Linked DNA regions of Homo sapiens. The protein of the gene in region 2 purifies or fractionates together with the protein of the main gene of each other region. This does not show direct contact. Each region holds a gene or a part of one and is shown on either strand. Other genes may lie near its edges.

What was found.
Region 1: the proteins of TOB2 (region 2) and CPEB3 purify together in Homo sapiens (co-immunoprecipitation; one study listed by IntAct). This does not show direct contact.
Region 3: the proteins of TOB2 (region 2) and PAN2 purify together in Homo sapiens (affinity purification with western blotting, with the first as the bait; one study listed by BioGRID). This does not show direct contact.

What each region holds. Positions count from the first base shown.
Region 1 is NC_000010.11:92,281,054-92,284,699, reverse strand, and holds part of CPEB3 (cytoplasmic polyadenylation element-binding protein 3), read left to right. Parts: intron 1-3,646. UniProt on the Homo sapiens protein: Sequence-specific RNA-binding protein which acts as a translational repressor in the basal unstimulated state but, following neuronal stimulation, acts as a translational activator.
Region 2 is NC_000022.11:41,443,947-41,448,045, forward strand, and holds the start of TOB2 (protein Tob2), read right to left. Parts: upstream 2,856-4,099; 5' UTR 2,433-2,855; exon of another isoform or gene 1,347-2,432; intron 1,327-1,346; exon of another isoform or gene 166-1,326; intron 1-165. UniProt on the Homo sapiens protein: Anti-proliferative protein inhibits cell cycle progression from the G0/G1 to S phases.
Region 3 is NC_000012.12:56,320,478-56,324,123, reverse strand, and holds part of PAN2 (PAN2-PAN3 deadenylation complex catalytic subunit PAN2), read left to right. Parts: coding exon 1-75; coding exon of another isoform or gene 76-87; intron 88-210; coding exon 211-317; intron 318-525; coding exon 526-624; intron 625-739; coding exon 740-813; intron 814-914; coding exon 915-1,062; intron 1,063-1,365; coding exon 1,366-1,509; intron 1,510-1,641; coding exon 1,642-1,701; intron 1,702-1,955; coding exon 1,956-2,046; intron 2,047-3,646. UniProt on the Homo sapiens protein: Catalytic subunit of the poly(A)-nuclease (PAN) deadenylation complex, one of two cytoplasmic mRNA deadenylases involved in general and miRNA-mediated mRNA turnover.

The DNA.
Region 1 (3,646 bases), on a different chromosome or scaffold from region 2:
ATAGTGTTGTGAGAGATTATAACTAGGATTTGACTTAGACCAGGAGGTCATGGAAAGTTTCTCTGAGGTAGTGTCTGTTATACCGAGGCCCCAAGAAAAGCAGGCATTAACTAGATAAAGGGAAGAGGGAAGAACATTCCAGGCCAAAGAACAGCGTGTACAAATGCCTTGTGAAGGAAATGATGAATAGAAGAAACTGAAACAGAAAGGAGATCTTGAGGCAAGAGAAAACCAAAAATATCAGTGAGTGAAAGGCTGTGAAACAAAGAGCTTTGTAGGCCAGTTTAAGGAATTTTGCCCTACCCTAGGAGAGGAGGAAGCTGCTTGTGGGAGGGTTTAGGCGTAAGAAATAGACCCCATTCTGGCCGGGCGTGGTGGCTCATGCATGTAATCCCAGCACTTTGGGAGGCTGAGGCGGGCGGATGACGAGGTCAAGAGATGGAGACCATCCTGGCCAAAATGGTGAAACTCCGTCTCTACTAAAAATACAAAAATTAGCTGGGTGTGGTGGTGTGTGCCTGTAGTCCCAGCTAGTCAAGAGGCTAAGGCAGGAGAATTGCTTGAACCCTGGAGGCGGAGGTTGCAGTGAGCCGAGATTGCACCACTGCACTCCAGCCTGGTGACAGAGTGAGACTCTGTCTCAGGAAAAAAAAAAAAAAGAGACCCCATTCTGGGCCGGGCACAGTGGCTCACACCTGTAATCCCAGCACTTGGGAGGCTGAGGCAGGTGGATCACCTGAGGTCAGGAGTTCGCGACCACCCTGGACAACATGGTGAAACCCCGTCTCTACTAAAAATACAAAAAAATAGCCAGGTGTGGTGGCGAGGACCTGTAATCCCAGCTACTCGGGAGGCTGAGGCAGGAGAATTGCTTGAACTGGGGAGGCAGAGGTTGCAGTGAGCCGAGATTGCACCACTGCACTCCAGCCTGGGCCACAGAGTGAGACCTTGTCTCAAAAAAAAAAAAAAAAAAAAAAGAAAGAAAAAGAAAAAAGAAATAGACCCCATTCTGTAGGAACTGGGAAGTTAACTTGTAGTGGTTCCTAAACCTGCTATGAGTCAGAGAACTGCCCTGGAAATTTTGATCTGTGTGCCCTGCAGTGGTGCCTAATTAGCTGTCTTTTTAACAAGTTCTCTAAGTGATTATTAATGTTAGAGAATCTCTGCAAAGATAACATAGGTTTGAGTCTTAACATTGATACTCAGAAGCTTGGTGATTTGATTTGGGCAGGTTACAGAATCTCTTTTAGTCAGATTCTTCATCTCCAGCGGAAGTGGGGAGAATTATAGATCCTCCCTTTTTGAATTCCTGGGAGGAATAAATGAGAAAATTCATTTAAATTGTTCAGTACAAGGCCAGACATGTGGTTAAGGGCTCTTAATAATTATTACTGAAAGTTCTTCAGTAAAGGTGAGGGTGATTTAGGGGATTTTTATTTTTATTTTTATTTTTGAGAGAGTCTCACTGTCACCCAGGCTGGAGTGCAGTGGTGAAATCATGGCTCACTGTGGCCTTGCCTACCGGGCTCAGGTGATCCTCCCACCTCAGCCTCCTGAGTAGCTAGGACTACAGGCACACGCCACCATGCCCAGATAATATTTTGTATTTTTTGTAGAGACAGGGTTTCGCCATGTTGCCCAAACTGTCCTCAAATTCCTCAGCTGAAGTGATCCACCTGCCTTGGCCTCCCAAAGTTCTGGGATTACAGGCATGAACCACTGTGCCTGGCTGATTTAGGGGATTAATCTTGGAGTGGTATGTATGGTGGGTTGGAAACAGAAATAAGTTAAGCCTCGGCTAGGTCTCAGTAACTTGACCATGGTCTGTAAGCATTTTCAGAAGTTTGCTTTAACATGGCTATTAGTTTTTGATGATCCTTATATAGGTTAAGTAGTTGAAGTAGATAATGTCCCTGTTGCTCTCTAAAGGACATTAAGAGGAGACTTTGGTCCCCAGAATATGTTTTACTGGTTTAACATCTACGGTATTATGTTTTTTTCTTTCTTTTTTTTTTGAGATGGGATCTTGCTCTGTCACCCAGGCTGGAGTACAGTGGTGCAGTCTTGGCTCACTGCAATGTCCATCTCCCTGTTCAAGCAATTCTCCTGCTTCAGCCTCCTGAGTTTGGGATTACAGGCACGCGCCACCACACCTGGCTAATTTTTGTATTTTTAGTAGAGATGGGGTTTTACCATGTTGGTCAGGCTGGTCTCAAACTCCTGACCTAGTGATCCACCTGCCTTGGCCTCCCAAAGTGCTGGGATTACAGGCGTGAGCCACTGCACCTGGCCTACAGTGTTACTTTGATTTGACTTTAGTTTCTTAGTTCTAGAGAGAGGCTTCACTTGCTACTTATAGAGGACTGTTTGAAACCTATCTTCATTTGCTACCCAGAGAATAGAATCTTATCTGCATATATTCACTGTAATGGGGTAGATATTTACAAAATTTCATAAATCAATATCATCTGTCAATTTTGCTTTCTCCTTATAAATATGGTGGGAGACCCATTACTTTTCATTATCCTTGCTTACATTCCTCTCTTTGGCTTATGTATCCCTGGGCCATGCAATGGTCGAGGGCAGAGAAACTTTCTGTAGCTTGTTCCTGAAGTATCAATTTTATAAGAAAATGTATATGTAAAGAATTATTTTGCTTTTTAAACAAGCATGGATTTCATAGAGCAGCAGTTCTCAAAGTATGGCCTTGCAGACCCCAGGGTTCTCTGAGACCCTTTCCACGGAACATGTGAAGTCAAGACTATTTCATAATAGTAGTAAAACATTATTTGCATTTTTCACTGCGTTAGCATTTACACTGATGGCACCGGCAACAGTAGATAAAACTCTGCACCTTAGCACCATTCAAGACATTGGAACCAATAGTAGTAATGATCATAGTTTTCATTACCATGTGCATGCAAAAAGAAAACAAAACAAAACTAGTTTCACTTAATGTCCATGATTAAACAGTAGAAGATACTCATTTTATTAACCTTGACTTTTAGATACACATATTTTTAACAATCTATATGATAAAGTGGGCAGTATGCATACTTCTGTATCCAAAGTATGATAATAGATACAATTAAGATGCAAACTGAACTGGTTGCTTTTTTGTGGCACACTATTTTTACCTGAAAGAGAGACTGACAATCAAAATTCAAAATATTTGTGCTGCGAAGGATACCATCGTAGTGAAACAGCAACCCACAGAAAGGGAGAAAATGTTTAGAAATCCTGTATCTGAAAAGGGACTTATATTTAGAATATATAAAAATTTATTACAACTGAACAATTTTAAAAAGGCCAGCGTGGTGGCTCACGCCTGTAGTCCCTGCACTTTGGGAGGCAAGATGGGAGAATCAGTTGAGGCAAGGAGTTCAAAACCAGCCTGGGCAACATAGAGAGATTGTGTCTCTACCAACCCCTCCTGCACCCCCGCCCAAAAACCAAACCCAAAAAAAGCCCAATTTAAAAACAGACAAAGGACCTAAAAAGACATTTCTTCCCCAAAAAATTATTTGAAGAAATGTCTTTTAAGGTCCTTTGTCCGTCTTTAAATTGGGGAAAAAGAAATTGGAAAAGACATTTCTCCAAAGATAAGCAAATAGTAAGCACATGAAAAGATGCTCACCATCGCCGG
Region 2 (4,099 bases):
ATTCTGTTTCAAAGAGGAAAAGGAGGGATAATGGTGATGGAATCCACTGAGCCCCAAACCCAAAAAGATACTCAGACACCTCTAAGCCTTAAATGTGCAAACTGTCCTACAATGACGGACTACAGGACTCAACTAAGTGTGGAGGGGCCAGCAGGTGTCACAGACCGGGTGGATGCGAGTGCCCTGCCGCTGTCCGGGGAGTGAGAGCCAAACGCAGGCAGCTCCTCTCCTTGGTGAGACACGGGATCCGCCCCAACTCGCTGGTCCCAGAGGCAGCGGCCCAGACAGGCGGGTGTGTATTGAAAGGCTTCCAGGACTGGTGCTGACTGACTGCAACACCGCGCCCAGTCTCTCATCATCTCCCCCTAGACACAGACCGGTCAACCTTAGGTCTGACAACAAGGCCCCTTTCGGCTATGAAGACCCTTTCTAGGGCACTCCATGTTCCTCAGGAGCTAGGAAAACTCGACTCAACCCAAACGTAGGCGGAGAGGCGGGCGGTGAGGGCCCGCTCTGCACTCTGGGAATTGTAGTCCTCAAACACCTCCGGACCAGGCGATAGCAGGAGTGACCTACTTTCCCTGCACACTACACTTCCCTGAGCACTTTGCGAAGGCCCAACTGGCCGCAATACGCATGCCCGGTAAGGGGAGCCGACCGAGGGTCGAAGAGCCCAGGAAAAGTTTCCGATGCACATGCGCGCTGAGGCGGGTCGGCGCCCCCCTCCCATCGCCTAATACATTTCATGTAGATTCTACCCAAAAGGCCTACTCCCCGTATTGTATGGCCCCACCACATCCTCTAGGCTTTACGAGAGCCTAACTTTCCCACCTTTCCCTTCATCGCCTCCCATTACTGATGAAACTAGGATCTGCTTCTAATGAGTTTTTTCTGGGTGAAGGGGGTGGGCTGGCTTAGATAAGGTCACGACCCCCTTCCCCCCACCCAATCTGAATTCCAGGGCCTGGGCGGTCCGTGTGGGGTTGCTGGATGGACGGTGGATTCAAAGGGAAACGGATCTTTTTCACTTAATGCCTAGCGGACTCGGCTCCAGCACCCCAAACAGCCAGGAAAGGAAAGGCAGGAATCAAACCCAGTTCTCCCGTCCTCTCGGCCAAAGAAATTTCCAGTCAAGCTGTGGGGAGGCGCCAGGCCAAGGCCAGCAGGGCCCAAGCCTCACCCCATTTCTAATCGAAGACTGAGTAACCAGATCCGGGAGAGGGAAATAGGAAAAGGTTCCCAGGCAGAGAAGAAAAAAACTGTACACCTGACACCTGAGCATCTTCTCATACTAAAATTCTGTGTGTCTCCTCCCATTGCAAGGTCTGCTTTACGACCAGACTTACCAGATCCTCGGCAAGCTCCCCCGCTGGGTGTTAAACCTCCTTAATCCTTCCTCCCACACAAGCTTCTTTCCCCCTATGCTTCACGGAGGGATGGGGGTAGAAGCCCAAGAAAGCAATAGGATTGTTTTTCTGCCGGAAAATCAGAGATGAAGGACCCATTCCCAGGGTACGGTGGGTAAGAAGGAGAAAAAGACCGTTTAGATACGGAGTAGCACCAGAGACTGGCCTCCACCCGTCCCCAAGCTGAAGCTTGCTGTGCGGGGTTCTGGTTTCTCCTGGGGGAGGGAGAGGGCCTGCCGGCTGTGCCTCCTCTCTGCACCCTCCTTCCCCTCCCAGATTTCTGGTGGTCAAGGGCACAGTTCATCCTCCGGACAGGAGGGGAAGGAGTTTGGGGGTAGGGCCCCACCTCGCAGGCACCTTACCAAGATAAGCAGAATCCACTCACTGGCACTGCTCTAAGGGTACTTTTTTCTGCCCAATTTTCCATTAAAACACTTAAGAGTATAAAGAGCTCAGCCGAAACGGTGAACTCTGGCTCAGTGGCCCAAGGACAATCTCCACTGACCTGTCCCGTCGCCAAAGGGGGTGTCCACCCTCCACCCTTCAGGCTCCACAGAGCCAGAAATAGAGTCTATTAACAATTACCACCCCCCTTCCCTGCACACGGGAAAAGAAGCAGAAAAACAAGGCCTGGATCCCCTTCCTTCCTCGGATTTATTTAACGGTGGGGGGAGTTATGTTTCTTTGGAGAACAAGGAAGATCTAGCGAGTAGCTAGGATATAAAGAACCGGGGGAGGCGGGGAAGGGAGGAAATGCACCCCACCCAGGAGAGGGCCACTCTTGGAACTGGGAGAAAAAGGAGCTCTTGGGCACCCCAGGAGCACAGATGGCGTGAGAAGAGGAGCTGGGGAAAGTGGGGTCTGGAGGGAAGCTGGATGGGGAAAGAAAATGCTGGCCAGGCGGGGAGGGAGCGGCAGCAACGTGGAGAGTCCAGCAAAGCGGGAGTGGGGCGGGGTGGAAGAGGTAGTCCGGCCGGCTGGGTCTCGGGGCGGGCCCCCCGCCCGCACGCCCCCCAACTCACTCACTCGGGTCTCCGCGGCGGCGGGGCGCTCTACCGGCCGCGGGGCGGCTTCTCCCTCCAGGGTGGCCTGAGCGCGGGGCGGAGGTCGCTCTCCTTTCCTTCCCGGGCGTCGCCGGGCCAGGGGACCGAAGTCCTTTTCGTCGTTGAGGGTTGGGGGACGAAGCAGGGGGCTATGGACTATGACTCTCAATAATTTCTTTCAGCTCTTAGGAGGTCGGGCTCGGCAGCGGGGGGCCCGAGGGCGGGCGGGCGGACTAGCGGCGACGACGCGGGGATGGCGGATCGGAGGGTGGTTCGTGTCGCGCAACGGCAGACGGTATGGGCTGTCGCCGGCAGACGGTCCTGCCCTCCTGGCCCCGCGTCGCCCGAGCCACGGCTTGCCTCAGCCAACAACCCGCACCTTCCCGCGCCCCGGCCCGAAGTGAGCAAAGTCAATGAAAAGTTTCACCCTTAGCAACCCTGCGCACGGATCCGGCTTCCCCACCCCTGCGTGATGCGTCCCTCCGCCCTGCAGGGGCGGGGCCAGGGCCCGGCCGGGACTACTTCCCAGCCAGCCCCGCGCCTCAGCTCGCTGGTATCTCGCGGAGCAGCTCCTGTGCCCTTCTGTGCTCGCCGGTCGTGCGTCCGGCTCCCCGTCTTCCCCTCCCTGTCACAGCGCCGCGCCGCACTCCTTTCCTTCATTCCCATACCACTCTGAACTTGTGCGCGTCGTGTGAGGTGTTCTCCCAGGGGCGCTCCGTGAGGGCCGGGGACCACCTGGGGCCGGGTTGCTCACGAGCCGGGCACAGTGCACTCTCCCTTTAGTTGTGTTTGGGGGACGAGTATCGCGGGGGAGGGGAGGGAGTCACCATGCCCGCCGGAAACCCCCCGCTGAGTCGTCCGCCCTGCACCTGCCTCGGAGCCCATGGTTCGGACGTTTGCCCGAGCCGTTTCCCGGGGCCTTCCCTCCAGCTCCGAGCGTCTGGCCGTGTCCGCGGCGATAGCATCGCCCCGTTACGGCCTCTGCGGGAGGGGGAACTGAGGGGACGACGCGGGCTCTGGAAACATTTCGGACCCGTTTCGGGCAGGCATGAGTCTTCCGAGCGCCTTGTGATTCCTCGGGGGGCTCAACGTCGAAAGAAAGGCGAGGGAGACTCTGGGGCCTGGGCCACGCTGTGCGGGAGTAAGAGGAGCCGAGGACGAGGCTGACGGCCGTGAAACTAGCCGAGTGCCACAAAGGACCTTCCCCTCACCGCCTCTGGCGCTCCTTTCCTTGCAGCCTGGAGGGCCGGCTCTGGCTCTGCGCAGGCGCGCGGGCGCAGCCCCTCTCCCAACTCTTGTTTGCTCTTTCTGGCCAGCGACCCCAGTGTGGGGCACGCGGGAGAGCCCCACATTTCTTCTAGTCGCAGTCCCGCCGGCGTGGGGTGGCCCCTGACCGTGCAACGGGCGCAAGGCTCGCACCCACTACGGCCCCTCGGGCGGCGGAGCGAGGCTCCGCGAACCCGGGACTGGGCGCGCCAGGCCCGCGCGCTGAGGCCCCCTCCCCCGGCTCTGGCCACGCGGGCTGCTCTGCCTCTGTGAGTGTGCGGGACACAGAGCCAGGGGGAGGGAGGGCCGTGTTCTGCGGTCACAGGCAGACAGGAGTGCCGGAAGATGCAGTCTGGAGCCCCCGGGGGACTGTGAGTGAGGTCT
Region 3 (3,646 bases), on a different chromosome or scaffold from region 2:
GCAGCCTCTGCCGCTGTGGCAGTGAGACCGTGCGAGCCTCATCCACTCTGCTTTTCACACTCTCCTACCCTGATGGTAGCAAAAGTGGTATACCCTTCAGCTCAGTTGGGAAGGCTCCCCAAAATGTCCTGTAATATCAGGGAGAGGGTGTTGGGGACTAACTGTGGGTAGAGGGGAGAACCAGGAGTATAGCATCTAATTTTCCCTCAGATAAAACTGGGAAGAACTATGACTTTGCTCAGGTGCTGAAGCGAAGCATCTGCCTGGACCAGAATACACAGGCCTGGTGTGACACCTGTGAAAAGTACCAGCCCACGGTGAGTGGACTGTTGGACTGGACTAGAGTCCTGGTCCTGCCATGGAGATTCAGCCACTATCCCATGTGGGGCTGGCTCTGTCAGCACTGCCATCCAGGGATCTCTGGTGGAGTGAGGAATCCCAGTTTGAAGACGCAGACCCAGGTCCCTGTCCAGACTCCTTTTCCTGTACATTCCCTGCCATTCCTTGTTTGTTTCTTCCTCTCAGATTCAGACCCGCAACATCCGCCATCTGCCAGATATTCTTGTCATCAATTGTGAGGTGAACAGCTCAAAAGAGGCTGATTTCTGGAGAATGCAGGCTGAGGTAAGGACTCAGACTAGAAACAAGGCTTCCGGAATAATTTTTCATTTTATCCCCCTTCTGACCTCCATATATGATTACATTCCTGAAGAACTGGATGTTTTTCTTCTGTGTTCAGGTTGCCTTCAAGATGGCAGTAAAGAAACACGGTGGGGAAATCTCCAAGAACAAGGAATTTGCTTTGGCTGATTGGTAGGTGCTGTCTTGGGAGTTGTCAAAGGATTGAATTGCCCAGTGGTTCCTCTTATCAAGACCTCTTTCGGAACAAATTTCCAATTCTTCTGACCTGATAGGAAGGAACTAGGGAGTCCAGAGGGTGTGCTGGTGTGTCCCTCCATTGAGGAGTTGAAGAACGTCTGGCTTCCTTTCTCCATTCGCATGAAGATGACCAAAAACAAAGGGCTGGATGTTTGCAATTGGACTGATGGGGATGAGATGCAGGTTGTTGAAAAACCGGGAAGAGGAAAGGGAATAAGGGAGAGAAGGTGGGGCAGAAGGTAAAGGAGGGCAGGGGAAGGTGAAACTTAGCAGAGGGAAAAGGAAGAGAATAAGGCCTAGTATTTACCTGTTAGGGGATTTTCCATAGTCACTCAGTTCAGTGTTGGGGTCCTAGATGGGCTAGGATGGAGATAACCCACCCTGGTCCCCCATCCCCCATACCCCCAACTCCCTGTCCTCTGTCCCCATTCCCCTCCCTTCCCCATCCTTAAACTTAGCTTAGCAGCCTGGGTACCCCCCTCACAGTGGGGCCCAGCCAGGGCAGAGGAGGAGCATGGTGTCTATGTGTATGACCTGATGGCTACTGTGGTACACATCCTGGACTCACGCACAGGGGGCAGCCTGGTGGCTCACATCAAAGTTGGAGAGACCTACCACCAGCGCAAGGAGGTGAGTGAGGTTGTAGAGGGCAGGAACACTCCTGGGATGGCCACAGTGAGTCCCAGATCTGTCCTTGAGTCTGAGACAGAGTGGTCCAGCCATCAATTTGTATCGCCACAGGCTTTCTTTGTATTTCCATAGGGCGTTACTCACCAGCAGTGGTATCTGTTCAATGACTTTCTTATTGAACCTATTGATAAGGTTAGTTGCAACATGTTCTGTTTCTTCTTTCATTTCCCCTTTTCCTAGCATCCTTATCTTTAGGGCTCTATAGAATGCCAGGCAGATTCAACAGGGAGGGAGGAAGGAATCCTCAGGAATAAAAACCATTAGCACTTAAAAATAGCACCTGAAAAAAAACAAAAACTAGCACCTGAGTCCTGGCCTCCGTCTGAAGTGGGGGAAAAGGAAAAGGGTGATATACATTAGCCATAAGTGCTTTTTCTCTTCTATAGCATGAAGCTGTGCAGTTTGACATGAATTGGAAAGTACCTGCAATCCTTTATTATGTCAAACGGAATCTCAATTCCAGATACAACCTGAACAGTAAGTGCTACATAGTAGACCCAAGTGTGTGGACAGTTTAGATTGGGCTTCAGGGTGAGATCTGGGACATTGCTTGCAAGTACTTAGGATTGGTAACCAGTGTTAATATTTCTGGAGATACTAAAGAGATTCCTGCTCATCAGACCTTAAATTTAGAAGTGCGAAATCCAGCCTGAGCAACATAGCAAGATCCCATCTCTTTGAAAAAAAATTTTTTTTTTTTTTTTGAGATGCAGTCTTGCTCTGTCACCCAGGCTGGAGTGCAATTGCGCAATCTCGGCTCACTGCAACCTCTGCCTCCTGGGTTCAAGCGATTCTCCTGCCTCAGCCTCCTGAGTAGCTGGGATTACAGACGCCCACCACCACACCCGGCTAATTTTTTTGTATTTTTAGTAGAGACAGGGTTTCACCATGTTGGTCAGGCTGGCCTCGAACTCCTGACCTCATGATCTGCCCGCCTCAGCCTCCCAAAGTGCTGGGATTACAGGCGTGAGCAACTACACCCAGCCTAAAAAAATTTTTTTTTTTTTTTTAATTAGCCTAGTATAGGCCAGGCACAGTGGCTTATGGCCTGTAATCCCAGCATTTTGGGAGGCTGAGGCGGGCAGATCACTTGAGCTCAAGAGTTCAAAACCAGTTTGGGCAACATGGTGAAACCCTGTCTCTACAAAAAATACAAAAAGTAGCTGGGTATGGTGATGTGCTCCTGTTGTCCCAGCTACTTGGGAGGCTGAGGCAGGAGAATCACTTCAGCCTGGGAGTCAGAGATTTCAGTGAGTCAAGATTGCATCATTGCACTCCAGCCTGGGTGACGAGAGTGAAACCCTGTCTCAAAAAAAAAAAAAAAAATTTAGCTGAGTGTGGTGGCATATACTTGTGGTCCCAGCTATTGGAGAAGCTGAGGCGGGAGGATCACTTGAGCCCAGGAGGTCAAGGCTGCAGTGAGTGAGCCATGATTGCACCAGTGTACTCCAGCCTGGGCAACAGGATGAGACTGCTTTTTTTTTTTTTTTTGGACAGAGTTTCACTCTTGTCACCCAGGCTGGAGTGCAATGGCACAATTTTGGCTCACTGCGACCTCCACCTCCCGGGTTCAAGCAGTTCTCCTGCCTCAGCCTCCCGAGTAGCTGGGACTACAGGCACCTGCCACCATGTCCGGCTAATTTTTTGTATTTTTAGTAGAGACAGGGTTTCACCATGTTGGCCAGGTTGGTCTTGAACTCCTGACCTCGTGATCCACCCTCCTTGGCCTTCCAAAGTGCTGGGTTTACAGGCGTGAGCCACAGTGCCCAGCCTGAGACCCTGTCTTAAAAAAAAAAAAAAAAAAAAAAAGCAGCTGTAAGTCTTGAGAGTGGAGTGGAAATGAGATGAGGGGGGGATGTTTGATCAGAATGGCTTAGGTTATGATGTTACATCTAATTATTCTTTTTTTTGAGACAGAGTTTCGCTCTTGTTGCCCAGGCTGGAGTGCAATGGCATGATCTCAGCTCACTGCGACCTCTGCCTCCCGGGTTCAAGCGATTCCCCTGCCTCAGCCTCCCAAGTAGCTGGGATTACAGGCATGTGCCACCACGCCCGGCTAATTTTTTTTTGTGTCTAA